Homo sapiens: one gene and its partners. The protein of the gene in region 2 interacts with the protein of the main gene of each other region in a biochemical or structural test. Each region holds a gene or a part of one and is shown on either strand. Other genes may lie near its edges. The genes, in order: DCUN1D5, UBE2F, RC3H1 and NAE1.

What was found.
Region 1: the proteins of UBE2F (region 2) and DCUN1D5 form a complex in vitro, tested with the Homo sapiens proteins (one study listed by BioGRID).
Region 3: the proteins of UBE2F (region 2) and RC3H1 form a complex in vitro, tested with the Homo sapiens proteins (one study listed by BioGRID).
Region 4: of the proteins of UBE2F (region 2) and NAE1, one has a biochemical effect on the other in vitro, tested with the Homo sapiens proteins (one study listed by BioGRID).

What each region holds. Positions count from the first base shown.
Region 1 is NC_000011.10:103,061,161-103,068,197, forward strand, and holds part of DCUN1D5 (DCN1-like protein 5), read right to left. Parts: intron 5,408-7,037; coding exon 5,299-5,407; intron 5,214-5,298; coding exon 5,109-5,213; intron 3,218-5,108; coding exon 3,115-3,217; intron 1,255-3,114; coding exon 1,199-1,254; 3' UTR 1-1,198. UniProt on the Homo sapiens protein: Contributes to the neddylation of all cullins by transferring NEDD8 from N-terminally acetylated NEDD8-conjugating E2s enzyme to different cullin C-terminal domain-RBX complexes which is necessary for the activation of cullin-RING E3 ubiquitin ligases (CRLs).
Region 2 is NC_000002.12:238,040,003-238,043,308, reverse strand, and holds the end of UBE2F (NEDD8-conjugating enzyme UBE2F), read right to left. Parts: intron 2,022-3,306; coding exon 1,971-2,021; 3' UTR 527-1,970; downstream 1-526. UniProt on the Homo sapiens protein: Accepts the ubiquitin-like protein NEDD8 from the UBA3-NAE1 E1 complex and catalyzes its covalent attachment to other proteins. Together with the E3 ubiquitin ligase RNF7/RBX2, specifically neddylates cullin-5 (CUL5).
Region 3 is NC_000001.11:174,012,350-174,019,386, forward strand, and holds part of RC3H1 (roquin-1), read right to left. Parts: intron 1-7,037. UniProt on the Homo sapiens protein: Post-transcriptional repressor of mRNAs containing a conserved stem loop motif, called constitutive decay element (CDE), which is often located in the 3'-UTR, as in HMGXB3, ICOS, IER3, NFKBID, NFKBIZ, PPP1R10, TNF, TNFRSF4 and in many more mRNAs.
Region 4 is NC_000016.10:66,827,946-66,835,464, forward strand, and holds the start of NAE1 (NEDD8-activating enzyme E1 regulatory subunit), read right to left. Parts: upstream 3,032-7,519; 5' UTR 2,955-3,031; coding exon 2,902-2,954; intron 133-2,901; exon of another isoform or gene 70-132; coding exon of another isoform or gene 35-69; intron 1-34. UniProt on the Homo sapiens protein: Regulatory subunit of the dimeric UBA3-NAE1 E1 enzyme. E1 activates NEDD8 by first adenylating its C-terminal glycine residue with ATP, thereafter linking this residue to the side chain of the catalytic cysteine, yielding a NEDD8-UBA3 thioester and free AMP.

The DNA of each region.
Region 1 (7,037 bases), on a different chromosome or scaffold from region 2:
AAAAATCAACCTTTACCTTAAATCCTAATAGAAACACTCCCTTATTATGGAAAAATAACCTCTTTACTTCTCTCTACTCAAACAATGACACTAGAAATGTTTCTGAAGTTGTGACTGGGCTATGAATATGAACAAAGTTTTCATATCACTGGGATACTGGATGGTTTGAAAAGGAATGTACAAACAGGCCTGCTGCTAGTACAAAAGTGCCTTTTACATGAATTAGGAAAGCCTTCCCTTTCCTCAAGACACTTGATTACCAACAGGCAGAAAATTGTGATAATTAGCAAGCTGCAATACTACCAACGTAAATGGCTCTATTGAGTTGTGCACAATTAATTATACCCAGAGTTCTCTCATGATTCCTTATTCTATTGTCTTCTTTTCCTATGTGTATCTTAATTAAATCCATATCACAGCTAACGTTCTCTTAAGGCAAAAAAAAAAAAAAAAAGTGCTTTAAACAAAATTCCCTATATAATGACAGTTAAAAATATAAATATGCTATTATCAACAATAATAATGATGATACAACTTAATAATACAACTTTTTTAGAAAACAAAACAACTGGACATAATCTTTCCAATTCTAAGCTCTCTGAGATAAGACATCTGCATAAGACCTTGGCAGCTTTTATAGAAACCCAGAGCTAAAAGTAGGAGCATTTTTCCAATACCTAGAAATGTTTATTAGCTGCATCAGCAAATCATTATCCCAGAAGTCAAGGCCAACAGTCTTCCAAATTGTGCAGAGATGACTATAATGAGCCATACCATCAGCAGACTATGTTGCCAAATATTAAGACTGTTTAAAATCTTGAAAATTCTGTAAATTCACGGTGAATTGGAACCTCAAAAATCAAAAAATTCAAATTTACAAAAATAAATACCACTCTGACACTCAAGGGACATCTTCACTTTAAGGCCTTTGTCACAAATCTGAATCTTTATTGTTCTGAAATAAATGTTATAAACATAACTCAAAACAAAAACTTCAATATTCAGTCTAAGAAGAGGTGTGGCTCAATGCCCATCACATGTAACAAGAAAAACCTCCTTTAAAAAAAGGAAAAAAAAGTACTATGAGAAGTCTTTCATATGAATGAAAATGCACCCGTTGGATTTTTTTCCCCCTCATCACATTAGCTTGTATACACGTGGGAATTGAAAGGTTTGCATTTTCTTCACATAGTTCTTGCTATGATGTCTGACGGACTTTTTGCCACTCAACAAATTCATCAAGAAGAACAGGCCCTAGAAAAAAAGAAACCATTTTTGTCAGAATTCAGTGAACTCATCTCTCCAATTATAAAACAAACTCCCCACGAGCTCTGCAATGACAGAGGAATGACCCTTCCTTTCTTTGGGTGTTCTGCTTCTAGACACCTTATTCCATTTAATGGTGCTTTCTTATTAGCCTTTTCTTTTTTGCCCTTAAAGACACAAGGAACAATGGTATCTATAGCAACTTCCTTCTCAAGGTGTTTCATGAACCCTCCAGTAACTGAGTCAATACAAATCTCTCCCTTTTTCTAAGTGTCCATAGCATTCTGGCATTTAATTATGAAACAATCTGAAAAGTGTTGAAGGTAATATTTCTATGTTGCCTCCCCAAGAAGTGTACAAGCTTGTTGAGAGGGATCAGCCATAATAGAGACTTACTTTATTCCAATAACAGGATGTAGTACAAAGCTGAACACAAAGCAAGTGCCTAATGAATATCTAATTAATGAGCTAAGTACTATTCTAAAACATATATTTTTATAACGTAGGGGAGGTCCAAACTCATTTGCTGACAGAGCCAAGTAGGCAGTTTAAATGAGCTCAGTGTTTATTTTGTTTAAATGTAGGAAAAAAATCACCGCCACAAAGAAATATGCTTGCTTTATTCTTCTTAAAACACATAATCCTCTGGTGGTCTTTTTCCATTGCTTTTGACAGACATGTTTCTCTATCGTAAGAAAAGCAGCAGAGCACATATGATAATAAATGGCAACTGAAAAACAGCCTAGGTGTTGGCATACCATGAACTGTCAAACTGAAAAGCAAGTCCAACACAGTTAACACTTGACTCCAGCCTCTGACTCCTATAAAGGAGTACTATAAAGGTACAGTTTTGTCAGACTTTTTAAATTTTTCCAACAAATCTAAATGTTGTATTTTAATACAAAATCTCCTAGTTTTAAATGCTGATACAAAATACATAAATATACACATCTACGGGCCATATACAGCCTTTGGGCTGCCAGGTTACTGCTGCTAGGTATTATTTCTTTAAAATAATACTAAATTTTATACCATCTTGTAGAGAGAGGACAAAATATATGTGGGAAGAAATAAAGTTATCCCTTCTTCTGTTATTTTATTTTTTCAGTGTCACAGAAAAAAGTGTATAATTTCAGTTTAAGTTTATAGGAATGTACCTTTCCTTGTAACCCTTCTGAACACTGAAAACACATGCAACCAACCAAAATGGTGGTTGGAACTGAAAAAAATTTATAGTTCTACAGAATTAACTTGGTTTATCTAATTAATTTATCATTATTTCAAAATCCTGTTTTATGGCATTCTAGCCTTTCCATGGAGGAGTATGGACAGATATTTTAACTTGACGGATTGAAAAATTATAACTATTTCACTATCAGTTAGCTCACAATCAATTTATAGTTTTCAGAGAGAAGTTATACTGACATTATTTGCCATATTGTTAATGGGTAGCATAATATTACAATAATGTTAAAGCTTTTTCTATTGTGGCTGATTGTTTTGCTGTTATATTTTTAAAATCATGACTGTACTTTTCTTCCATAGGCAAATGCCAGGAAAGACAGAAACAAAGCTGAATTTTAGCTTCTGGATGCAAAAATTATAATTTAAATTTAGCTAAAATGTTTGGTTGCCGAGGAACTGAAAACATTTCATTTACCAGCATAGATTTTATATAATACTGCTGAATCTAAGCTCTCTCTCTACTTCTCCCACAATCCCTCACACAATTAAATAAGTTACTATTACAAAGTTTAAAACCTCTATGCTAATACTACACAAATGCATACTCTCATTTAATATTTTTGGAAATTTTGTTTTCAAAGGAACATGTTATGTTATACTTACAAGCACCATCTTCATCATAGTTACTAAGATCAGCATGGACTGTTCTGCTGAATTCTAATACATTGTACCATTGATCTTTGTTCATAACACGATACTTTGATTGCTGCAAAAATGATTTAAATATTTGTATTTAAATATTTAAACAAACATCATTTACTCAATTTAGTAAACTAAGTTTTAACTGTTTTTGTGATTTGGTTTTTTCTAAAACATTTACTATTTTTTTAATTATTTGTGTTTCTAAGAGATTCCTCATGGGCATTTACATATTAACATAATCTATTTTTTACTTTTTTTTTCATTTTTGAGGAATAATAAGAGCACTGAGTACTAACAGTAAGGATAAAACTAACTTTTTCATATGTATATACTTGTGTTACCACCAATGAGATCAAGATATATAACATTTCCTACATCCAGTATGTTCTATTGTGCTGCTTCCTAGTAAATCATTTCTTTGCTCAAGATTTACTGTTTAGCCACATTTTGAGTTTGGCATCTTTGGAAACAAGTGAAAGAGTATAGGCTTCGATTTAAATCCCACCCTTGCCACTTAATTGAGTGATTTTGGGAAAGTTACTTAAGAATAGAAACCACCTCCTCATTTGTTAAATGGGGATAGAATTTAATTCAAAATGGTATTATAAAGATTTTTAAAAATATATGCCAAACAACCTGCACATAACAAGTGTCTGAAAATATTTAGTTCTTCTCAGCTCCCCATAGAGCTGAATATTTTTACATTCAGTTAAATTTATTTTTGCCCAAAACTACTAATAGGAAGAAAATAGATACCATCCATCAAAAATAATTTATAGGACTTACAGATTGAATCATGCGTAAAACTCATTCATGTAAGACCTTTTCATATCATTGTCTCTTTTTTTTTTTTTCTGAGACAGAGTCTCGTTCTGTCACCCAGGCTGGAGTGTAGTGGTGCAATCTCAGCTTACTGCAACCTCCACCTCCCTGGTTCAAGCAATTCTCGTGCCTCAGCCTCCCGAGTAGCTGGGACTACAGGCACAAACCACCACACCCAGCTAATTTTTTGTGTGTATTTTTAGTAGAGACGGGGATTCACCATGTTGGCCAGGCTGGTCTCGAACTCCTGGCCTCAAGTGATCTGCCTGCCTTGGCCTCCCAACGTGCTGGGATTACAGGCGTGTGCCACCACGCCCAGCTGATATCACTGTCTTGTATCACAACTTTTACTACTCTGGGAAAAGGGAAGCAGCTATAAGCAATGTGCTTTATGAGAAATTATTTCCAAAGGAAAAAGCATCTGTATTCAAGATATGGTGAGAACTATACCAATAACCCTAGAATTACAAAGGCACAAAAACAGATTTAAAAAAAAAAAACTAGACAAAGCAATGGAAAAAAAGAATAGCATCTTCTTAGAATCACTGCCTATAGTAGTTGCTATGATAAACCTTCTAAAAGAACACGTCATCATTTCAGCTTACATTTTTTTAGTAACCAGCATATTTAAGTATACTATTATAGCCATTCTCATATTTGTGGCCATAAAATATTAATAGCTTTATTCTGTTTCTTTAGATTGAGCCTAAGTAGAAAAGGAAAGTTTTATTACTAAATTGGTTCTCTTATGTACATTTCAGCTTAAGACCCTGTGTAACAAAAGAAGAAAATCAGATTTAGAAGCTTAAAGGTTTGTGTACTAGCATTAACTCTCTTATGAAAACCCCGAGAAACTAATTCTGCAAGACAAATGTCTGTGATACAATGTATTTCTTGGAGGTTTCTTTTATTTGGGGGACTGGGGGGGTAGGATTGAAAATATCTTAGGTACAAAATATATTAATAAACATGAACTTCTATCTAAAAATAGCAACTGATATGTACATATTTTAGAATTTTTTCTCTAAAGTTTTTTTAAAGCATACTATTAAAAATCTACTTGTTCCTCAAAAGTATAACTTTCAGATTAAGTTTTAAAATAATATTTTCAAAATTCGAAAAAACATACGTACCTCCAGGTACTGGTAAAATACTGAAAACAGTGGCCATGTCCTCCCAAGCAGAAGAGCTAACATAGATTTAGCAGTATCAATATCAAGGCTTCTCTGATCTTTATCCTAAAATATAAGTGAAAAAGTTTTCCTAAGTGTGGTCTCAAGATGAAAAGCTATTAAAACAACAAAACAAGAAAATTGCACCTACCCTTGCAAAATCAAAGGCATATCTGTAGATATTCTTAAATGACGAAATATCATTCAACTGTGAGCGCAAAAAGTCAAATTTGTTTTGTAACTTTTCTGTGCAGTCACACCTTAAATAAAAGAAATATCAAACAAATTACATAATCAAGAAAATCAAATAAAAGTATCACTGGGGGTTAGACGTAATGCATTAAGAAAAAAGTGAGCGCATTTATGAAGTTAATTTAGTTTTAAAATTCTGAGTCACAAATTTAGAGTAATAAATTTCTTGCCCTGCATCTACCAATGCAATAAAAAAAGAAAAAAGGGGAAAAAAGAAAACCTGGGAATCAAAGAAAGTTCACTCCAATTACTTTGCTTAAAAACAAACAAACAGCTCATTCAAAAATTCCAAATAAAATCGAAGTTAAAAAGAGATGTATTAAAACATGTTTTATCACATATACAGCTAAAAATGGCAGAGCAAATGAAACTAATCACGCCTTTGTCACACATTTCTTTAGAAAGTTCGTAGGTAACAGTTTGGTGAAAGACATTAGTCATGAGTAGTTTTAAAAGTTTAGGATATAACACAGTGCAAATTAATACATTAAGTGGTCCAGTCATAAATCAAGATCCCTATATTTTTGTGAACAAAAAGTCAAAGTCAATCAGTAGAAGCACCTAACTTCAAATAAGTTATATATGCAAAAGCATGCAAACAACAAGTCATACGTGTTATTTTTAAAGACAAGACATTAAATATAAGCAGCTAAATATATGGAAGGCTCAAAAATCTTAACTGACTTTGTCTCAGTGGGTTGATAAATTCCACTGTTTAGCAAGAAGCAAGGCAGTCAAGGCCTTTCACAATTTGGCACAAATCTCTAGTTTCATCTCCTGCCACTTCCTGATAACCTTACCATGCTCTAATTATATCACTTACCATTCCCAAATGCCACTGCCATACTTCAGCACCCATTATTTCCACTTGAAATCTCAAACATGCTGATAAAAATATTATTCATCAAGACCTAACTCACATTTTGCCACCTCTGAGAGACCATCTGACTCCCTTTAATCAAATTAATTGTGCCATCTACTGTGGTCCACAGTATTCCACTCAAAACTGAATTTTAGTTATTCAACATGCTCTCCAGCCACCTGGCATTCTCAGATTTAACTAAGACTATACTAAATCAATAATGCAAAGGCCTATAATGTGTAGTAACATAATTTCATTAATGTGTAAATATTTTGGACAATTTTCTAATATTAATTAAACCTTGCATTTCTAGAATAAGTCAAATTTGGTCATGTTATCTGTTTTATACATTGCTGGATTTTGGGGTTGTTTTGCTAGGTTCCTAAGTGAGACTAGCTTTTAAGTTTCATTCTTACTCTCCTTGCTAGTTTTTTTAACAAGATTGTAGTACATAAGACTCAGAAAATGAAAAGAGAATTGCTACTTTTCCCCCCCGTTTTTTGAAAAAGCTTATGTAACCCTGGAATTAGCATCTGTCCAAACTCAGGTGAGTATTGAGGGAAGGAAAACTTTTAACTAATAAACCAACATTTTTAATGGCCATAGGGCCATTCAGATTTTCTATTTCTTTTTGAATGTTTTGGTCCCATACTTTTCTCATAACTGATTATTTTACATATAAGTTTATTTAAATATGATTAAAATTTATAACATTTTCTAATTTGCATTAGCATTATCTTCATCCCTTTTTTGTTGTTTTTCTTGACCAATCTTAC
Region 2 (3,306 bases):
GTTTTTCTACTGTGCAGATACTTTGATGTCAGAATAACTGATATTACCACTTTCAGTGTGGTCCAGAGGGCACACTGTCTTTCATGTACACTGCATAAACGTTTCCACTGGACAGCAGGCGTTTCTCCCACAGAAGCGCTCTTCTGAAAAGTCCTGCATCAACACCTGCACCACCAGCTGGGGAACTCCAGGGAGCCCGAACAACTACTATGGGATGTGCCCTGACTTGGGCCTGGGACTGGCACCAAGCAGAGAACCTCATTTCCTGGGTCAGAGGGGGCAGGAATTAGCTGCTGGCCTCCTGCCCTGCCTAGAGAGGAAGCCTAGTGCTCAGCTGGCAAGTTCCTCTGACACTAGGCAGAGGAAAAGTGTGAAGCTGCAGTACCTCCCTCTCCCAGGCCCTGAGAGGTGGGGATTAATGTGTCTCCTGGACAAGCCCTGAGCTCCTGAGATGCCATCATTCTCTTTAACCAATCTCACCCTTCCTGCTCTGTGTGGCCTGTTAGCCAGGGGCCACCCTCAAGTCTAATGGGTGCAAAGAGGAAGCAAGGCCTACATTCCTCACCTGCTGGGTCTCCGTGACAGACTGATCTCACAATCAGAGATTCTATAAATTAAGAAAAACAAACTAAACCCAGTAGATGGCAGATGGGGGAATCCAGAGGTCTAAGGAAGCTGGCAGTTAAGTTTGAGAGTGTTAGGCAGGCAGCAAATGAAACTAGACAGACATTTATTTTGTGTTTGATTTCACTGGTTCAAATGTCTACATGCTGGAGTAAATCCACTTGCCTCTCTTCAGGGCTTTTCCTCTGCAGTATATTAACCTGGCCGAGGATGGCATATGCCACTGTTGACTCCTGGTCCTCCAAGGCCTAGGAGGCTCACCCCACCGGCAGGGCCTGGAGCCATAGCAAACTCAGAAGAAGGCCACAGGTACAGTCTCAGTGACATCAGACATTGGGCTGATTCCTGAGGCATCGCTCCTGTCTCCCAGGACAGCAGGGTCTGGCTCTCTGATAAGTAGCTACCAGGTCACAATCACATGACCACTGCAAAAGCATCAACCCCAGCTGGTCCAGGCTCCAGCCAGTTTCCTCTGGGCAGCATGTTAGAATGGGCTCCCTGCCTTTTTGTTTTGATCATCCAAATCTAGCTTCAAAGGGCTCCAAAATGTGCTCACCACATCCGGACCCGAAAGCAAGAGCTGATTTTTAAGAGTGAGATTCTCATTGCATTTGGACAAAATGAATAATGTGCCTTTCATATTTTCTTTGTATTTCTCTTCAATAGTTGCTTGACCCAACATCTTTCTGTCTGCTCTATACAATGAAAATACAAACTAAATGAGAATAGAAAAAATAATTAAAGCATTGAATTGTACAAATTACAAATCTGTTCCAAAATATACTTACATTAAATAAAATACGCATTTCAATAAGAGATCTACAGTGAATGACTCTATGCATTCTGGGAGGCTTCACAACATCTAGGCAGGGCCAACATTCGTGAAAGAAGCTAAGAGATTTTGCATCCAATCACAGTTTGTAGCGGGTATCTTATTGCCAATCTGCGAGTTACACTGAACACATCATTAGCATCGCTTGTGCAGAAAACCAATTTTGTTTGGGAAAAGGGAAAGCAAGCTCTGGCCTCAATTTTGAGTTCATTACAACTTCTTAAGAATTTCACCAACAGCCTATACAGTACAAGTTCAAAAAAGTAAACATGTTAAGGTAAGCAGACAACTCTTCAGAAGCCCAAACACATTTTCTTGCTGTATTTATGTTGAATTCTCCATCTACAATGAGCAGTCATGAAGATGGTCTTCTTCAGGGCAACATGGTCACAGGACTGGGGCAATCCAGGGGACTGAGAGGGAGCATGAGGACGGGAGAGGGGGCTACCTCTTGCTGTTTCATGTTAGAGACAAACTGTAACACAGTCCATGGGCCTGCAATCGTCCCCTTTTATCATCTGGCATAACGTTTGATGTAGTCATCCACTTTATTCCGGAAGTCCTCCTGTGGAGTAACAGCATTGGGGACAGAAAGAAGAACAGGAGGAGTGAGTGAGTGAGTGAAGCAGCGCTTCAGGGACAAGTCAGATCCACCAGCACCAAGGTCCCCTGTGGTCGCCAAGGTGGTAGAAGGACTGGGACCTTGCGGAGTCTGAGTGCCATTTCGCCACGACCTGGGTGCCTACTGCACGCAAGACACAGTGCTGGGTATGTTGAGGGGGGAGCACGTGGAAGGCCTGAGTGGAAGGGACCCTAAGGGGGTACCTATCCCTTCTCATTTTCCAGATGGGGAAAGTGGAGCCCAGAAAAGTGTGGTCGAGGTCACAAAGCCAAGACTCCTTTGGCCACAATGGATGTGAGCCACAGCTGCTGCTCTCAGGAAGACCCTTGTTTCTGGATTTGTCTTCCTAGAATGATTTCCCTGGATGCTGCTACCTACTTAAAATGTGCCTGCTCTTCACAGCCCATGTACAGGCCCCCATCTCTTCTGGGCAGGATGACCACCCTGCCCAGAAGAGAGCTGGGTGTGCCACAGAGCTCCATCCTCATGCATTGAAATGAAGGTGGACAGTGACCAAAGGCGGTGTGGACCTAGGAATCACCCCAGGCCAGTATGGGTGGAACAATCTTCTCGGATCTGGGCCACTGTCAGGTTTGTCCCTGGATCTGGTCTCCCCAAGGTTAGGAGTAAAATCCCATGGGACTGTATGAGCCGTAAGAATGACTTGGAGCTCTTAACCCTCTCACTCCTACAACACAGCTGCTGGGTCTCAGATGTCCCTGCAGGATCACACTGCTTCGGTCCCATCAATGCCATGCAGCCCCCACTGCCCAGGGAACACAGCACAGTTACCATAGTTCTTAGTGGGCATGAGCTCCATTTCCTTAGCTAAGCCTCAGTCCTCCTGTCTAAGCCTCAGTCTAACCTGTTTGCTGATTCCACTGCATAATCCCGACACCTGGCAATGTGCAGGGTATAACCTGGCACTCGATGTATACCTCGCTGCTGCCGCGATGCCCTCTTGCAGGGAGATCCTGCCTGGAGCATGGTCCTGGCCAGCTGGGCACCAGGTGCCTGCCCTCCTGCCACACTTTTAGTTAGCACAGCGACCCTTTCCAGGGCGGGCAAGTTCCCAATTTGAAGCTATGGATACGGTCCCATGACTTGCTCTGGTCTCAGGGTGAGAAAGTGGAGTGCTCTGAGTCTACCCAGGTGCCTCTGCCCTGCCAACCGCCCTATTTGTCTACAGGATGGCGTTTGGAGCCTCCCACATGGGCCTTTACCCCGC
Region 3 (7,037 bases), on a different chromosome or scaffold from region 2:
TAATATGTTTATGAAATCTATAGCTATAGCTTCTATAGATTTAACTTATAAAGATATTTTAAATCACATAATACATAATCAGTCTCCAATACCCTCTTCAAAATAACTTCTAAAAGTAGCCCCAAATAGTGGTGATCCCAAGAAAGAACTAGAGCCGGGCACAGTGGCTCACACCTGTAATCCCAGCACTTTGGGAGGCCGGGGCAGGCGGATCATGAGGTCAGGAGATCGAGACCATCCTGGCTAACATGATGAAACACTGTCTCTACTAAAACTACAAAAAAATTAGCCGGGTGTGGTGGCGGGCGCCTGTAGTCCCAGCTACTCGGGAGGCTGAGGCAGGAGAATGGCGTGGACCCAGGAGGCAGAGCTTGCAGTGAGCCAAGATCACGCGACTGCACTCCAGCCTGGGCGACAAGAGTGAGACTCTGTCTCAAAAAAAAAAAAAGAAAAGAAAAGAAAAGAAAGAACTAGAATAAGGAGATCTAGATTCTAATACCAACTCTGCCATTTATTAGTGCTGAGATCTGCACACCTCTGCTAAATATTCAAAAGGTTTAGAGGAAAATAAAAAACAAAAAGATGATTCCAGAGTTTAAGGACAAAAAGGATCAGACTATTATAGAATGCTGCAACATAAATTCTTTAAAAAAAGAAGGATCAAAAACAAAATAAAATTTTAGAAAATTAAAAAAAAGAAGAGCAGACTAAAAAGAGATGATGCTGTGATGGAAAACCTAGGAAACCATACTATAATGGACAACATTTGAAAATAATGGTTCTTTGGGGGAGTAAAGGATTTTAAATAACCAATTGAGGGTTGCTGATAGTACAAGCAACAAAACAAAATAGATAATGCATTGAAAATGTAGGCTTGAGGAAAAACTGAGATCATATAAACAGGAAAGTTCTCCATGAGAGTGAATGGAAGTGGAGAATTGAACCTTGGGGGAATCATATATATCAGTGCTTTCCAATATGGTAGCCACTAGGTACATGTGGCTATTGAGCCCTTGAAATGTGCTGGTGAGACGGAGGAATTAAATTTTAAATAAAATTTAAATGTATCCATACAATGGAATATTATTATTATTATATATATATATTTTTTGAGACACGGTCTCACTCTGTCGCCAGGCTGGAGTGTAGTGGCGCGATCTCAGCTCACTGCAACCTCCGCCGCCTGGGTTCAAGCGATTCTCCTGCCTCAGCCTCCCAAGCAGCTGGGACTATAGGTTCACACCACCACGTGTGGCTAATTTTTGTATTTTTAGTAGAGACAGGGTTTCACCATGTTGGCCAGTATGGTCTTGATCGCCTGACCTCGTGATCCTTGGCCTCCCAAAGTGCTGGGATTACAGGCGTGAGCCACCATGCTCAGCCACAATGGAATATTATTAAGCAGTAAAATAAATAAACTGTGAAGCCATGAAAAGACATGAAGAGGGCCAGGCACAGTGGCTCACGCCTATAATCCCAGCACTTTTGGGAGGCCAAGGCAGGAGCACTGCCTGAGCCCAGGAGTTCAAGACCAATCTCTATTTTAAACAAAAACAAAAGAAGAAGATACTGACGAAGAGACCTAAATGCATATTGTTAAGTGAAGATGCCAGTCTGAAAGGACTATATACTATGATTCCAACCACATGACATTCTGGAAAGGTAAAACTATGACTGTAAAAAGATCAGTGGTAGCCAGAGGTTCAGAGGGATGAGGCAGAGATGAGTAAGTGGAACATGGGACATTTTTAGGTCAATGAAACCATTCTGCACGATTCTAGAATAGTGGATGTATAATGTTATGCATTTGGCAAAACCCATAGAACTGTCCAACACAAAGGGTGAATCCTAATGTGAACTATGGACTTTAGTTAATAATGTATCAACACTGGTTCCTCAGTGATAACCAACACACCACACTAATGCAAGATACTAACAGAGGAAACCGTGGGGGACAGTATAAATGGGAACTGTGTATTTTTTTGAGCAATTTTTCTGTAAATCCAAAACTGTTCTAAAAAAAAAAATCTTTCAAAAAACTCAAATTTACATAGCCACATATAGTTAGTGGCCAGTATTGAACAGCATAGGCCCATATAAATAGACTGATGTGGGAAGAAAATGAGAATGGCATATGAAGAATTACTTCATTTCTGACTACCACTCCCAAAAGTACACATACAGTTAACCCTAAACTATATAAGGTTTTATATGTAGCTTCTATATTAACATTTTACAGTAGAACTTGATCAAAAATATTCTGGATGAATATCTTTCTAATTTTTGTTAAACAGAATTTAAGGAGGAAAATAACATTCATTAAAGGTGTCAGGTACTATACTAAAGATATTATTATTTACATTTCCAAACAACCTTTAGATAAAAGTATTACCATTTCTGTTTTTAGAGATGAGGAATTATAATGCTTAAGTCATAGAAGATGAGAACCTAGATATACTGGACTCCAAAGTGTATGTTCTATTTTTTTTAGCGAGGTCTATATTCTAATATACACCACTCTACTGTATATATGTTTATGATTCCCAAAATTACAAACATAATTTTCCCACAATGAATTTTCCATCAGGAGCAATACTTTATATATAGCACAATATAACAGTTAATGATATACTCAGAGTCTAATGAGGTGTTGTATAGGTAACTGCTGTCCCTATTTTAAACAGCCTCAGGCTAATGTGACTTTTTTCCTGCCACCCAGCTGGCCCTCCATCCTACCTATATGGCTCTACTCCAACATCTAATTTGCACCTTTTAATCTGCTGTGGGACGAGAAAATAGATAATCAAATTCCTTGAATTATGTACAAAGCAAGAGAACTTCTAAACCAATATGTTAGTGCAGATGATTTAGTTCATTAATTTTTCTGATAATTATAGGCCTTTTTTTTTTTTTTGGCCTACTTCTTAATCTAAACTGAGACCTGGACAAATTAAATACTGTTCTATAATAAAGCTAAGAATTTAGTGATTCTGTTTCATTCAAAAGTTTTCCACTACACTTTTTTTTTTTTTGAGACAAGTCTCGCTCTGTCGCCCAGGCTGGAGTGCAGTGGCATGATTTCAGCTCACTGCAACCTCCTCCGCCTCCTGGGTTCAAGCAATTCTCTGCCTCAGCCTCCTGAGTTGCTGGGATTACAGGTGCCTGCCACCATGCCCGGCTAATTTTTTTGTATTTTTAGTAGAGATGGGGTTTCACCATCTTGGCCAGGCTGGTCTTCGACTCCTGACCTTGTGACCTACCCGCCTCAGCCTCCCGAAGTTCTGGGATTACAGGCGTGAGCCACTGCACCTGGCCTCATATTTTATATATATATATATATGTTTTAATACAGATGGGGTCTCACTATGTTAGCCAGGCTGGTCTGGAACTCTTGGCCTCAAGTGATCCTGCCACCTCGGCCTCCCAAAGTGGTGGGATTATAGGTATGAGTCACCGCCTCCTAGCCTATCCCATATTTTTCATGGATATAGCTCTAAACATCACCTCATTTAAAGACATTATTTTTATTTTTGTATTTGTTGACACTATCTACTTCAAGATAAAAGTTCGGCCGGGTGCAGTGGCTCATGTCTGTAATCCCAGCACTCTGGAAGGCCGTGGCAGGTAGATCACCTGAGATCAGGAGTTCAAGACCAGCCTGGCTAACGTGGTGAAATCCCATCTCTACTGAAAATACAAAATTTGGCCGGGCATGGTGGCATGAGTCTGTGATCCCAGCTACTTGGGAGGCTGAGACACAAGAATTGCTTGAACCCAGGAGGCAGAGGTTGTAGTGAGCCGAGATCATGCCATTGCACTCCAGCCTGGGTGACAGAGCAAGACTCCGTCTCAAAAAAAAAGTTATTTTTATAATTTAAATGTATTAATTGAGTACATTAGCTTTCCACTAAATGTTAGTCTAAAAAATTAATGAGGCATATATAAAAACACAGAAACATGTATTTACAAAAAGTTGACATTTTCCTGAAAAAAATTACAGAAAACCAGAAATTTTACTGCAGAGTTCTAAATATTCTGACATAATCCTTTTCCTTATCATTTTTTAAGTTTCCTTTTTTTTTTTTTTTTTTTTGAGGTGGGGTTTCACTCTATTGCCCAGGCTGGTCTGGAACTCCTGGCTTCATGAGATCCTCCTGCCTTGGCCTCCTAAAGTGCTAGGATTACAGGCTTGAGCCACTGTACTCAACTTAAGTTGTTCTTATAACTAAATTATAATTATGTATATTAATAAAATTTTCCTTAAGGAGGGGAGATTAATAACAAAATTTTAAATTTTTTTTGTACTTAGATCTCCTATAACCCCATTAGAAATATTTACTAAGAACATAAAGTGACTTTTGTTTCTCATAAATTTTAAGATTTCAATTCAATTAGATAAAGTACCATTTTGAATTTAAGATAACAATATATTTCTAAAGCCCCAAATGGAAATGTCAATCTTAGCAGTAACTCTAAAGTCCAAGTTTATTACCCTTTATTCTAGAAAGAAAAAAAAAAACTAATTTTGTCTCCCTCAGTCAGCCAATTAAAACAATCCAAAAAAGCTTACTAAACAACTGCCTTTGTAACACTGTTCATGTTTTTAGAGGTGATCAGGTATAGGGCCAAGATCAAGGTTTCTAACACTTATTCAACAAGGGATTAAAAGCAGAGTGCCACGCAAATCAAAACTCTAAATATTCTCAAAGATTAGCTGAATAAAATAGTCATAAAGTTAGATTCACAGGGATCAAAGAGCTTCAAATTCTAAAAATCGTTTCCCAGTGTAACTTCAAATAAATCCTTTGTGAATATTCCTAGTTTCTTCTATACATTAAGAAAACCTAAAAGGCAAACAAGTTCTAGATAGGAGACCAAGTATTAGTTGTTCACATTTGTATAGAACATTAAATTTTAGTTCTTATAACCCAATGAAGAAATACAAATGAGTCTAAGAGTTTGAGCAAAACCCTCTGGGGTGATCAAAACAAAACTGCAAACTTCTATGAGTCTCAACTTTTCTTCCATAAAGAGTCCCTGGCAGCATGTCTACTGTACTTAGAGAAGCATGCAAAGAATTAGGTGGTTTTTTATTCCTAACAATCACATCCCAAAGTTTTTTCTGCAATTTCAATTGTACAGAGTACTCTTCCTCGATGTTGGCTCAAATTAGAGACAGAAAGCAGAATGGCGTTTGCTAGGGATTAGGGAAGAGGGGAATACAGAGTAACTGCTTAATGGGTACAGTGTTTCCTTTTGGGGTAATGAACACATTCTGGAATTAGAGCTGGTGGTTGAACAACATTGTGAATGTATAAAGTGCCACCTAAACTGTTTACTTTAAAATGGTTAATGTTATGTGACTTAACCTCAATAAAAAAAATTATGTTAATCTGTAGATAAAACTGACCCCTTTAGAACTCTTTTCTTGCTCAAAAAAAAAAAAAAAAAAAAAAAAAAACTGCTACCATGTTCAAATGCTATTTAGATCTTGGAAATTTTTTAGATAAAATGCACTTATAAGTTAAATTATTACCACATGTGCACAGTAATAATCAGTGAAGGTATACCAGTGTCAGTTTAAAACATTGTTATGCCTGTAATCTCAGCACTTTGGGAGGCAGAAGTGGGAGGATCACCTTGCTCCCAGGAGTTTGAGACCACCCTGGGCAACACAGCAAAATGCTATCTCTATAAAAATAATAAAAATTAAAAAAAGTAGCCAGGTAAGGCGGGAATAACACTTAAACCAAGGAGTTTGAGGCTGAAGTGAGCTATGATAATGCCACTGCACTCCAGCCTGGGTGACAGACCATGAGTGACTCTGTCATTCATTCATAATATATACATACAGCATTGCTAAAATGCTTGATAACTGTCAAAAGAATATTGCTCTGACATACATCTGCAAATAAGTAAGGTGACTTTAAATTTGAGGAAAATTCTTTCCCCAAGCCTCAATCAGGAAAACAATATAAACTAATAAGAAGTATCTAATAAACAAAAAGTAAACAAGAATATTATATAAGTAAACAGGCACAATCCTGACCAAAAATGGACAGAAATAAATATGCTAAAGTTAAGTGTCTGGGGGATGTAGGGCAACATTACTTCAGATTGGTAAATGTCACACTTCAAAAATAGAAGGAATCTACCTTAAGAAACTCTGTAGTAAGAAAACCTCCTTTGTATAAATGCCTGACAAAATTAATCTTTTATCATAACCTCTAAAGCTAGTCCAAATCCAGCCTAGATTCCAGAATTACACAAAAGAAAAAATCTTGGAGACGGTTCTGGGAAAAGGCTGACCAAAATCTGTGACTGTTTTGATACAGGCCAATCTGAGAATTTTAATCCCTCTGAACCCAATCCTGCAGAATACCTGAACCCTGAGCACAGACGGGGCCAAAGCTAAACCAGGTCAGAATACCCTGCCAAGGAACATCCTGATCTGAGGTGTTCACCAAACAGGGATCATTTATCAGTTTATTCTTCACTTTGTTGGATGCTGACCATTTTCAAGATATATGCAAGAGTGGACTGATTAGACCCATCAGAATCCATTTCAAGCCCTAAGATCTGGAGATGAAAAATACTGCAGAATTCTAAATTATCTATGGCTTAAAGAAAAAAAATTATAAATTAAGAACTTCAAATATTAGCTGACCCAACTTTAACATCATTGAATATCTTTAATTATTTAAAAAAATTTATAAAGTATTTCAAAGGCACAATTTAGTAATTGCCTATGTAACAAATTAACCATGAAAACAATTACAGCAGTATGATAAATCTGTCCTATGTAAACAGTATGAGTTTTTATATTTTATAGCATTCAGATATGCTAAAAACAAAAATTTAAGTGTTTCTTTTGTGATTCACATGAACAAATACTTTCTTGGTCTTACAAGTAGATATCTGACAGGATACAAATAATGATAATAGGGTAAGTTCACAGGCAAAAAAAGGAATCTGTCAACACAGAAGATGCTTCAAAGTTTAACTGTGACACATGTGGTAGTGGCAAAGAATCTAAT
Region 4 (7,519 bases), on a different chromosome or scaffold from region 2:
GAGTTGCTGGGACTACAGGCACAAGCCACTGTACCTGGCTTCATTTGTTTTTGTTTGCTGAGCATCCATCTTTCCACTCCACTGTATGCTCCATAAGGGCCCAGACAGCTGTCAAATGTATGGAGGAATCGCCTAGAAGAACCAGATGGACCGTAAACGCCTGTTTTCTCCATCAAAGTATGGCACGTAGAAGACACCTGACATATATGGTTGATGGATGCTTAGATAGTTGGAGAGTAAATTTAAGAATACTGGTGCATCTTGGCTGGGCGCAGTGGCTCACGCCTGTAATCCCAGCACTTTGGGAGGCGGAGGCAGGCAGATCACCTGAGGTCAGGAGTTTGAGACCAGGCTGGCCAACATAGTGAAACCCCGTCTCTACTAAAAATACAAAAATTAACCAGGCACAGTGGCACGCACCTATAATCCCAGCTACTAGGGAGGCTGAGGCATGAGAATCGCATGAACGCAGGAGGCGGAGATTGCAGTGAGCCAAGACCGCGCCACTGCACTCCAGCCTGCGCAACACAGTGAGACTCCGTCTCAAAAAAAAAAAAAAAAAAATACTGGTGCATCTCAAGCAGGGTGAGATAGTGTGTGTGCCTGTAGTCCCAGCTGCTTGGGAGACTGAGGCAGGAGGATCACTCCAGCCCAGGAGATCAAGGCTGTGGTGTGCCAATAATCATACCTGCGAACAGCCACTGCACTCCAGCCTGGGTAACATACTGAGACCCACCTCAAAAATAAAACAAAAAGAATACTGAGGCCAGGCACTGTGGCTCATGCCTGTAATCCTAGCACTTTGGGAGGCTGAGGCAGGAGGATCACTTGAGTGCAGAGGTACGAGACCAGCCTGGGCAAACCCCCATCTCTAAAACAGTTAGCTAAGCATGGTGGCACATGCCTGTAGTCCCAGCTACTCAAGAGGCTGAGGCAGGAGGATCGTTAGAGCCCAGGAAGTTGAGGCTGCAGTGAGCAGTGTTCTTGCCACTGCACTCTAGCCACTGCACTCTAGCCTGGGTCACAAAGTGAGACCTTGTCCCTGAAAAAAAAAAAAAAAAGAATCCTGGTGTGTCTCTAAGTAACATGTTTCAAGAATAGGCCAAATGAATCAGTCCTCTCTACTATCTTGCTGGCCCAACTAACGTGAAGTAAGGAGGGGCTTATTGACTGCTGCATTTTGCTTCTAACTGCTTCCCTTTGACACTTCAAAACCAGTTCTCACTATGAAAGTAAAGTTTGGGACTTAAATGGAATGCCCTCAGCAAAAACCCTCTTTTGTTAGAGTTGCTTAGTAACCTCAACTATCTTCTCAGCTCTGTCATGTACAGTTATACCTGCATTAGAAACACAAGAACTCCAAGAATTTACAAGAAAACCTAAGTTGGTTATAAGGACTGTTACCCTGTTTCTTCTCCGAAAAGCTTGGAAGCAGGATGTAACTGAGTACCTCCGAAAAAGCCAGAAGAGCCTTAGTTTACATCCTGGCTCAAAGATATGGGGAACTCTGGGCAAATTACCTAACTTCTCCAAGACTCTGTTTCTCCAACTGTAAAGCACAGGAAATGGTTGCTTTCAAGGGTACTCTCAGAACTAAGTGCCTAAAGCCTCTACTACAGCACTAGGCTGGTGGCGCAAACAGAAGCTCCAGTCCTTGGGGACATATAACTTCTGTTGTCTCAGAGGCTCCAGGAAGGAGGAAAGCTGAGCAGCTTTGTTATCTCCACAGCCTCAAGACACAGAAGACGCTCAATAAATAAGGAATGGGTAGTGCAAGGAGAAAAGGCAAGGGTGGGGAAGTACCCAAGGACCCTCCTGATGGCTTAGGCCTGCACTGTCCATTAAGGTAGCTGCTAGCCACATGTACTACTGAGCACAAGCAATGAGGCTAGTGTTAACTGAGATGTGCTGGTAAGTGTAAAATACAATATTTATACGATAGTTTTGGGGGGGCTTTTTTGACGGAGTCTCGCTCTGTCACCCAGGCTGGAGTGCAGTGGCACGATCTCGGCTCCCTGAAACCTACACCTCCTGGATTCAACCGATTCTCCAGCCTCAGCCTCCAGAGTAACTGGGATTACAGGCGCGCACCACCACGCCCAGCTAATTTCTGAATTTTTAAATAGAAACAGGGTTTCACCATGTTGCCCAGGCTGGTCTCGAACTCCTGACCTCAGGTGATCCGCCCGCTTCGGCCTCCCAAAGTGCTGGGATTACAGGCGTGAGCCACCGTGCCGGTCCTCCAAGACAGTTTTAAAAAGGAAAATACTCATGACCAGCTTGGGGAAAGGTGGCAAAAACCTCGTTTCTACAAAAACAAAAATAAAAATAAAAATAAAAATTTAAGTAAAATATCTCAAGAACTTTTTATATTGTGTTGAAATAGTAATGTTTTGGACATATTGGGTTAAATTGTATTTAAAAATCAATTTCATCTGTTTCATTTTACCTTTAGTGTGGTTACTAGAAAATTTATAATTACATTTGCGGCTCACATGAGACTAGCATTTTATTTCCATTGGACAGCGCTGGCTGAGAACAAAACCTAACCCTCTGTGCCGCCCTCGCGGCCGGGATGCGGTGCGCCCCGGGCCTCCCCATTCGGAAAACGAGGAGCCTGGGCGCAACGGGGCCGGCAGCCGCCTTAGCTACCCGGCTGGCGCTGGGGACCCCGTCCCCCGAACTGCACACCGCGTGGCGGGGGAAGGGGTCCCAGCCCTCGCGGAGCACCTTTGGCCCAGGGCGGGAGCTCCGAGCGCCGGCTTCCCGCGCCCCGCACGGCCCGGCCCAGCCTGGAAGAAGGCCTGAGGAAGGCCCGACCGCGCCGCCCGCGCCCTTAGGCCCGGCCCGAATGCTGGAAAGCCCGCCGGCCCGCCCTCGGCTCGGTGAGCCTCGGCTCACCTCAGCTGCCGGTCGTACTTCTGCTCCTTGAGCAGCTTTCCCAGCTGCGCCATGGCCGCGCCTGCCGCGCGGAAAACAGCCGAGCCCCTGCGGAGCGCCGCCACCAGCTCCACAAGCGCGCAGGCGCACTGAGCGCCCCTTCGCCGCTACCGTCTCCTGCGCGCTGCCTGCAGGGGGCGCCGCACTGCACTGCGCACGCGTCGCCGGTACGCCGGGGCCTAAGCGGCCCTGGTACCCGAGCGGGTCTGGGGCTCTTGGTCCCCATCGGCCAGAAAGGCAGACCCGCTAGCCTGCCAATTTGCCCTCTGTCCATGCAGTAATTGGGGGCGACTGGGGCATTGGAATCAGGCATACTTGTATTTCGACCACTTAACTGGCTGTGAGATCTACTCTTTACCTCTCAAATCCTCAGTGTGCTCACCTGTGCAGTGGGGATAAATGGGTCCCAAGTGTCTTTTGACCTTAAATGAGATTTTGAATACAGGAGGCCAGACTCCCCCCAAATCTTGCATGAATAATAACTTTCATTTTGATGATCATTATTTTTCACCCATTTCTTCCTCTCATGAAAAGCCCACAAGCCTATTTTGAATCACAAAGCTAGGGGCTCCCTGCTGCAGATGCAGACAAGTCCAGGGCTCTGTTCTTGGAGAGTTTAGTCTCATGAAGGAAGAGGGACAGCAAACAAGCACTTACCAGACAATGTGGCCTTCCTCTAGATAGAGGGAAGCAGGGTGCTCAGGGGTGCACAGAAGAACCTCCCCAGTCCCCCTCTCCAAGAATGTTTCATGTGGTTTGGAGATGGAGGAGTGTTTTGTTTTGTTTTGTTTTGTTTTGTTTGAGACAGGGTCTCTCTCTATTGCTCAGACTGGAGTTCGGTGGTGTGATCTCAATTCACTGCAGCTTCAACCTCCCAGGCAGCAATCCTCTCACCTCAGCCTCCCAAGTAGCTGGGACTACAGGCATGCACCACCACACCTGGCTAATTTTTGTACATTTTTTGTAGAGATGGGGTTTCGTCATGGCCCAGGCTGGTCTCAAACTCCTGGGCTCAAGCGATCTGCCCGCCTTGGCCTCCCAATGTGCTGAGATTATAGGCATGATCCACTGTGCCCAGCTGGAAGGGTGTTTTAAGCATAAGGAACAGCAGGTGCCATCTCTAGGAAGCAAAGAAGGCATAGCAAGCTGTAGGTGCTAGAGTAAGTTTGGTCAGGTGAAGGATAGGGAGTGGTTGAGAAGGTTTGAGAGACAGTTGGGACAGGCTGGGTTCTGAAGACTGTGAACATAGATCCAAGGAGGAATTTAAAGTCCTCCACTTCCTGAAAAGACCCTCCTTTCAGGAAGAGAACGGCTGTCCTGTGGGGATGGGAGGCCAAGGAAGGAGGTTACCCCATGAGAACAATTGGGAGGGGGGTGGTGGTGCTGAAGACAAGGTGACCATCTGTGAGGGAGACGAAGACTCCTTCCCTGCTATCTCGCAGACCCTACAGGCACCTTCAGGTTAATAACTGCCTGAAATAAGGTGAAAATGAACACAGATCCCCACCCCCAATCCCCTAGGATGGGGACCAGAGAGATGGCACAGTTTGATGGTAATGATGCAGTGATGATGAATTGCACTTTGCCCTGGGCATGGTCTCCTGGACTAGGGTGAGAGTACACCTTCCCATACCTTCCCTTGCCCTTACCCAGCTCCCATGGAACACACTGATGGGAAACAGAGGTGTGAGGCTTTCCCAGCTCATCATGTGTTTGTGCTGTCACATTTCCTTCTCCAAGTGGACAGGTAAAATATAAGGGATAATAAAATACACTCCGGGAAAGTAGGAAGGTCAAAAGGCAGCAGATGAGAGTTCACTGCTTAGTTTCTCATACCTATGGACTTCATGAAAGGAAACACCCACAAATTTGGTAGAAGGCTAGTCATATTGCCCGTGAAGAAGTAAATGATTTTGAAAAGGTTTGTGTTGGTGTTGTCTGTAAAATGATACCTCAGGGTATCAGTTTCCTAGGAATGTCGTAACAAAGAACCACAAACTGGGTGACTTAAAACAAGAGAAATTTATTGTCTCACAGTTCTGGAGGCTGGAAGTCTACAATCAAAGCACGGGTGGGACTATGCTCCTTCTGAAACCTGTAGGGGAGAATCCGTCCGCTTCTTCTTGGCTTCTGGGGGTTTGCTGGCAATCTTTGGCTAGCAGCCACAGCACTTCAGTCTCTGCCTCCATCATCACATGGCATTCTCCCCTCATGTCTCTGTGTTTCCTCTCTTAAGGACACAAGTCACATTGGATCAGGGCTCACACTGATGACTTCATCTTAACTGGTTTACACTTGCAGAGACCCTGTTTCCAAATAAGATCACCTTCACGGGTACTGGCAGGTTAGGACTTCAGTAACTTCTGAGGAGGACATAATTCAGCCCAGAAGCTTTGTATTAATATTATCATTATTTTTTTAGAGGTGGGGTCACACTATATTGCCCAGACTTGTCTCAAACTCCTGGGTTGAAGCAGTCCTCCTGCCTCAGCCCCTCAAAGTACTGGGACTACAGGCATGAGCCACTGCACCTGGCCCTGCCCATTTTTAATAGGGTTATTTGTTTTATTGTTATTGAGCGGTCTGAGTTTGTACATTTTGGATATTAGTCCCTGATCTAATGTATATTTTGTAAATATTTTTTTCTCAATCTGTGGGTTGTCTCTTTATTCTGTCATTTCCTTTGCTGTGCAGAAGCTTTTTAATTTGGTATAAACCCATTTGTCTATTTTTGCTTTTGTTGCCTATGCTTTTGGAGTCTGGTTACTATTTTTTGGCAGCAGTGGGGGACAGGATCTCATTCTTTCACCTGAGCTGGAGTGCAGTGGTATAATCATGGCTCACTGTAGCCACAACCTCCTAGGTTCAAGCAATCCTCCCACTTCAGCCTCCTGAGCAGCTGAGACTACAGGCACCCACCACCACACCTGGCTAATTTTTAGATTATTTTCTGTAGAGATGAAAGTGAAAATAATAATAATAATTCAACCCGTAAAACCATGTAAAGGTGCCTATGCTGGAGCAGAGGAGGCTGATCAGACACAGTTCTTTTGACGGCCCTGACATGAAAGAATTCAGGGCCCACTGGTGAGTTCTCCCTGTTGTGGAGGGTGGAAACCAGATATATCAGACCAGGAAGCCATGGTGTAATTCATTTAAGCTATTGGTTTTCAAAGTGTGGTCCTGGACCAGCGGCATCAACATCACTTTGGAAACTTGTTAGAAAGGCAAATTCGGCCAGGCGCGGTGGCTTACGCCTGTAATCCCAGCACTTTGGGAGGCAGAGGCGGGTGGATCATGAGGTCAGGAGATCGAGACCACGGTGAAACCCCGTCTCTACTAAAAATACAAAAAATTAGCTGGGCGCAGTGGTGGTCGCCTCTAGTCCCAGCTACTCGGGAGGCTGAGGCAGGAGAATGGCGTGAACCAGGAAGGTGGAGCTTGCAGTGAGCCGAGATCCCGCCACTGCACTCCAGCCTGGGCGACAGAGTGAGACTCCGTCTCAAAAAAAAAAAAAAAAAAAAAAAGAAAGGCAAATTCTTGGCTGGGTACAGTGGTTCATGACTGTAATTCCAGCACTTTGGGAGGCCAAGGCAGGAGGATTCCTTGAGGCCAGGAGTTTGAGACTAGCCTGAGCAACATAGCAAGACCCTGTCTCTACAAAAAGAAAAAAAAAAATTAAAAATTAGCCAGGCATGGTGGTGTATGCCTGTAGTACTAGCTACCTGGAAGGCTAAGGTGGGAGGATCACTTGAGCCCAGGAGTTTGTGGTTGCAGTGAGCTATGATCTCGCCACTGCACTCCAACCTGGGCAACAGAGTGAGACATTCCTCTCTTAAAAAAAATTAAGTATTAAAAAAAAAAAAAGAAAGCCAGGTAAGGTGGTTCACTCCGGTAATCCCAACACTTAGGAGGCTAAGGCAGGAGGATTGCTTGAGCCCAGGAGCTCGAAACCAGGCTGGGTGACATGGCGAAACCTTGTCTCTGAAAAAAAAAGAAACACAAATTCTTGGACCTTATCCATACTTGCTGAATCAGAAACTGTAGAGTGAGGCCCAGGAAACTGTTTTAACAAATCATCCAGGTGATTCTGATACATGCTTGATCCTACCCTGGCTTTCTGAGCACTTACTATGATGCCAGGCAGGCCCCTGACATGCATCACCTCGTGAGCTCACAACCACCCAATGCAACAGATATTGCTGCTAACCCCGTTTTACAGACAGAGGGCAGATGTTTGGGGAGAAGAGTGAAGTAACAAAGATTAAGAGGTGGTGCAGGGGTTAGAAACAAATACCCCAGTCTGGTGCGGTGGCTCACACCTGTAATCACACCTGTAGTCCCACACCTGCAGTATTTTGGGAGGCCAAGGCAGGAGGATCACTTGAGGCCAGGAGTTAGAGACCAGCCTGGGCAACATAACAAGACCCCGTCTCTACAAAAACTAAAGAATGTGGCCGGGTGCTGTGGCTCACACCTATAATCCAAGCACTTTGGGAGGCCGAGGTGAGCAGATCATGAGGTCAGGAGTTCAAGACCAGCCTGGCCAATATGGTGAAACCTTGTCTCTATTAAAAAT